2 separate regions of the Homo sapiens genome follow, and region 1 is linked to region 2. A link means that fine-mapping ties the variant in region 2 to the expression of a gene that starts in the linked region. Tissue or cell type: adrenal gland. Region 2 holds a variant in brackets; the other region holds the start of a gene. All regions are shown on one strand. Distances are between the middles of the regions.

What was found. PIP is the estimated chance that this variant, and not a neighbour inherited with it, causes the effect.
Region 1: ZNF571-AS1 starts here. The variant in region 2 is fine-mapped to the expression of ZNF571-AS1 in adrenal gland (GTEx, PIP 0.93).

Annotation. Positions count from the first base shown.
Region 1 is chr19:37,547,448-37,550,137 of GRCh38, reverse strand. It overlaps ZNF571-AS1 (ZNF571 antisense RNA 1), which reads right to left and starts at 1,189. Exons shown (of 6, transcript NR_038248.1): 1 at 983-1,189. It overlaps LOC124904708, which reads left to right. Exons shown (of 2, transcript XR_007067248.1): 1 at 1-2,246.
Region 2 is chr19:37,452,875-37,455,564 of GRCh38, reverse strand. All of the region lies in intron 2 of ZNF569 (zinc finger protein 569), which reads left to right. Among named protein-coding and RNA genes, the nearest start is that of ZNF569, 13 kb to the left of the region's middle. The variant G/T (reference allele first, on the strand shown) is at 1,428.

The DNA.
Region 1 (2,690 bases), 95 kb before region 2:
GAAGGACGTTCTGGAGGACTGTGAGCCAGACCAAGGAAAACCTGGGCCGACGAGAATCAGGGAAGGCAAGAAAAGAGGGAGAACAGAGTAGAGGCCGCAGCCCAGGCAGGATCAATCCATCCCACTCCCATGTGCCTCGGGGAACCAGGGTCCAACAGGGGACCTGGCCAGAAAGGCGACAGTCTTCGGTCCAAAGGTTCTCCGAACACTCGTGTCTTCTATCGCCAGCACAGCGCCATGGTGTGGACAGGTTGTACAGTGAAGAGGAAAAGGGGATGGCGTTGGAAACAGTTTCTTTGACATCTGTCTGCACCTGTTCTGCAGGTGAAGGTGCGAGACCTCCTCCACACCTCAGCGGATTGTATCTTCACCCCCATCTGACCTTTTTTCTGCACACATCCTTTAATCCAGAATGAAATCTGAAGAGGATGAAGGAGTGCCCGCCTCAGGTCCTGAAGCTGCGACTCCGCCAGCCACCGAATTAGAAGTGGGCTCAAGGGGGTACTGAGGACAGGACAGCTAGGGTCCGTCCAGCCTTGGGTGTGCCGCAGGACCATGGGCCCCTGGAGGAATTTGTTCTTGGTTGTCGTGTGCTGGTCTTCTTTCTGGAAGAGTGGGCGGCTTGGGAGGGGAGGTGATTTGGACGTTTGCGGGTCGCAGCCAGCCCCCCACTTCACCGAGGCTTTAGGAACCAAGAGCGAAACAAAGAACGCTTGCCCCGCAACCCAAGCCCGGCCAAAGAGACGGGCGCATCAGAGCGTAGGCGAACTACAGAGAAACCGCGCTTCACTGCACGAGCCACATTTCTTTCACCGCACACCACACACACACTCACACGCACACACAGAAAGACACACGGAAACATCCAACAGTCGCACAGAAACACACACAGCCAGGCAGCTCCTGAGGCTGCGCGGTTCTGCTCTCTGCCAGGAAACCCCTCCGGAAAGAGAGCGCCCCGGGGAACACAGGCAGGCCGTACCTCGAAATCCCAGCGGGGACACCTGTCAGGGAGACGCACCCTCACACCGCCCATGCATGCCCGACGCATCTTTGGGATCCTTAGGGATCACGTGGTGCTTCCTTGAATCTCCGCTTGAGGTTTCTTCAGGCAGGTTCGGCCTTGCCCGACTCCTAGGATCGCAGGACCATGGCGACGATCCCGCGGAGAGGGGACGCACTGCCACAGACGCCTGGGGGCCAAGCCGCTGGGGCCAGTCCCCCGGCAACGGTGGCGGTTACTGTGACGCGAGTCCCCCCTCAGCGCTAGCGCCTGGTGATCGCGCCTGGTACGTGCACTTTCGCGTTCCCGGTTTGTGGGCCGCATTGTCAGGGCTCTCAGGCTGCAGCCCAATAGGAAAACAGTGGAGGCCGTGCAGGCGGCGGTTCGGGGAAGGAGACTGCATGCGACAAGCAGCGCAGGACCCTGACTGTCGTGACCTCAGTGCCTCCTTGAGCCGACCTCGTGTTTGGGTCCGGGTGTAGGAGGAGGTGCTTCAGACCGTGAGGTGGGCACTCGGGATTGCTCTTCTGATTTGATTCTGGACTGGAATCAAATTGGAATTGACCCGGAATTGGGTCCCACGGGGCTGGGGAACCAATCTGGTGAGGTGTGGAGGGGTCGCTGGTGCACAGAAACATACCGGATACCCTCGGGGTGGGTGTCAGCAGAACATTCCTCGGCTCCATGAGCTGACTGCCTCCCTTTGATCTGGGCCTCCCAGGGCTCTTCCTGCGTCTCCAAGCTCAGGGGCTCCTGCTTCTCAGCACTGCTGTCTGGAAAAGGCGGGAACGAGGACTAAGGCAAGCCCAGTGTGGGGCAGAGATGGCAACACCTGGAACTAGCTTTTCATGGGGGCAGATAATGTGGAGAGTGTCCCAATTACATCTCCCTTTATTCTATCCCATACTACTAAACCCCACCAGCTATTTGCCTACAAACTGTGTATCAGTCAGGACATCAGGACACCAAGATAAAGGACTAGAGTTTGGTAATCAACTACTGGCTCCTCCAGCAGCTCAGAATGTGGCCTGTATGCATCACTTCACTTAATTCATTCAAGAAATGCTGACTGAGTTCCTGCTGTGTGTTGGACACTTTCTTAGAAGTGGGACACACTGCAGTGTGTGGGACAAAGGCTGGGCCGCTCATTGCTTATGTTCTAGTTGAAGAGAGAGTCAATCAACAACATTCTACTTTCAGACATTGATAAATGCTGTCATGAAAAGACAAGGAACATGAAAAGGTAAGAAAAGGGATGGAGAGAGATGGGATGAGGGGTGCCTGGGCAGACAATGCAATGATCTGGCAAAAGAGTAGGACAATCATGAGACTGCATGTGTTCCAGTTTCTGCTGCTGTAAAACAGCATCCACAGGTTACATCTTTACTATTCTGTTACATACATACTATTATTTAAATAAAAAATAGTACTAGTTAACTGTGAAAATTGCAATTAATAGGGCAGATTAAACAAATCCTTTAAATTTAAACAAATGTTTTATGGTTTTTTATCCTCTGATACATTGTTTCAACTTTAAAAAACCCTCTTTATTTGATATTTAAACTCTATATTAATGTATATTCTTAAGATACATAAATTTAAGATTTTTTTCGAGACAGGGTCTCATTCTGTCACACAGTCTGGAGTGCTGTGGTGCAATTATGGTTCACTGCAGACTCCACCTCTC
Region 2 (2,690 bases):
GGTTTTTGGCAAAACGTGGATTCAAGCAAGTGGAGTGTTAAAAAATATATATTATTATGTAGATATGGCAGTTGCTGTAAGCATTTTAACTGTATCAGAGCTCATTTCAGGAGGGAATCATGCATGATAGTCCAGAAACTAAACAAATTGATATGGCTGGAAGTAAGTTCTTTGCAGTGGAAAGAAAAATAACATTTGTTATGAATATAACATTTAGTTTGTGAATTTATTTCTAAAGTATTTCCTCAATTAGCTTAAAGTTGAGTTCCTCCAGTATACTGAATTCCGTCTTTTCTGAGGCCTTACCAATTGCTACTGCTTTGCTTGTAATGCTTTCCCACTCCCACTCCATCCTAGCTAATTTACTTGACTTTAAACTGTTATCCTAATCCTAACTTTATTTGCAAGGTATTTTTGAGCCCCATGACAAAATAAACTGAAGGACTTCTCAAAAGTTTATTGTAATGAGGGGACTTTGGGTTTCTCCTTAGGGATGTAAACAGCTGGAAAGAACTTTGCTTCAATCATTACAACAAGGAAACTACAAACTTCTACCGTACAACAAGGAAATGGACAAACTACAAAATAATTTTTCTAGGACCCTTCAGAGAACTGAGGTCACAGGGCAACCAAGTAATCTTAAATCTGGGGAAAGAAAGATGCCAGCTGAGAGAAACAGGACTCAAGCTTTACTTACCTGGGATGGACTCTGCCAGACACCATATAAGCCAGTAAGAAAATACAGCTATCAAGTTTTTAAACAAATTTTTAAAGTGTGAATGTCAGCTAATGAAAGTGTGAAACCACTGGGGGACTTGCAAAATTAGGGAGGTGGGGGTTGCAGTCTCTTGTAGGCTTTTCCTCTGGGAATCCCAACAGGCACTCATAGGGAAGATGGGAGTGAATCCTGAGAAGCCTTTCCTTGTGGTGTTAGCTGGGGGAGGGCAACAGCAGCCCAAACCCATCTTCCCTATCACTGCATAATGAAGAGCAGCAAAAACAGTTGCCTTAGGAGACTTGTAGAAAGCTATTGCAGTTTAGGAAAGGGACCTGAAAAAAAGTAATATCTCTGGGAGTAGGGGAGGAATATGCTCTAGGACTAGCACTACAGCTGGCAGAGCGGCAAGAGCACTTGTGAAGGCCACATCCCCAAGACTTAGGGATATGGTGTCTGCCTAAGACTGAGGCTTAGTGAGATCATAAGAGAATGCTATCCCTCCGTCTACTCAACCCCCACCAAGATAACAAGAATCAAATAGAAGCAATAGTAGAGTACAGCTAGGAAGCCTGCAAGAGAGATTCTCTCTGGGGAGCAGCACAAATGGAACACCCAAAACTAAGGGAGAAACATGCATTGAGAAAACAACCATGGGAAATCAACCCTTACCTTAAACACAGATATTATTAGAGGATATTATTGAAGCCTG[G/T]GGTACACTCAGTGTAACCACAGCAATGACAAACCTCAAACCCTGTCCAGCTATTGAATAGACCAGCATAACCCCCCATGTTAAAAACCTAGCAGAAGAAAAGACATACTCATGTTTAAGTGTAAAAACTTCTTAACCTTCATATCTACTGTACTATCCAAGATGTACAGCCTTCAATGAAGATTATGAGGCATATAAAAAGGCAAGAAGAAAAAGAAAAAACATACTTCAAAGAGACAAAGCAATAATCATAACTGACTTAGTTATGACATAGGTATTGCAACAACCCAACAGGAATTTAAGATAACTATGACTTATATGAAATGGACCTGATGGGTAATTGGAGCAGAGATGGAAGAAAAGTATTTAAATAAATGATGGCTGAGAATTTTCCAAGTTAGTGACACGAAACCATAGGTCCAAGAAGCTCAGAGATAAATACCAAAACAAAATTTTAAAACACATCTACACATATTATATTTAAACTGCTGGAAACTAAAAATAAAAGGAAAATCTTGAAGATAACAAGAAAAAAATTGTCTATTGAGGAACAAGAATAAGAATTACATATAGCAGATCTATTATCAGAGACCATGCAAGCAAGAAGACAAGGGAGAATCATTTTTAAAGTGCAGAAAAACTGTCAATCCAGGATTTCACACCAAGCAAAAATACCCCTTCAAAATGAAGGAGTGGGGGGTGACATCAGCAAGATGGTGGTGTAGGAAGACTTGGACCCTTCCTCACCTTCCCAAAATACTAATTCAGCAACAATTCACAGACAAATTCTGTTTGTGAGAAATCAGAAACTAATTGTAAAGGCTGTTGCATCCTGAGAGAACATGAAACAAGACTAGTGAAGCTAGTAGGGAGATTCAGGATACCCTGTTGCTGGAGATACTGCCCCTGGTACAGTACCAGACAGTCAGGAAGAGATGCCCTAACTCATCCAGGGGAGAGAAGGGGTTGGTTTGTGCAACCAGTACGCCATCTTTTCTTTGTGGGCTCTCCAGAGAATTGGCTGAAAAATTCACTAGAAGGATTCAACATCAGACTAAATAAAGCAGAAGAAAGGATTAGCAAACTGGAAGACAAGCCATTAGAAATAATTCAGTCAGGGGAGTGATAATAAAAAATAATGAAAAAGAGTGAAGAAGGCTTAAGTGGGTTATAGAATACCATCAAGCAGACTAATATATGCATTATGGGAATCTCAGGAGAAAATAGAGAAAAAGGACCAGAAAGCTTATTTTAAAAGTAATG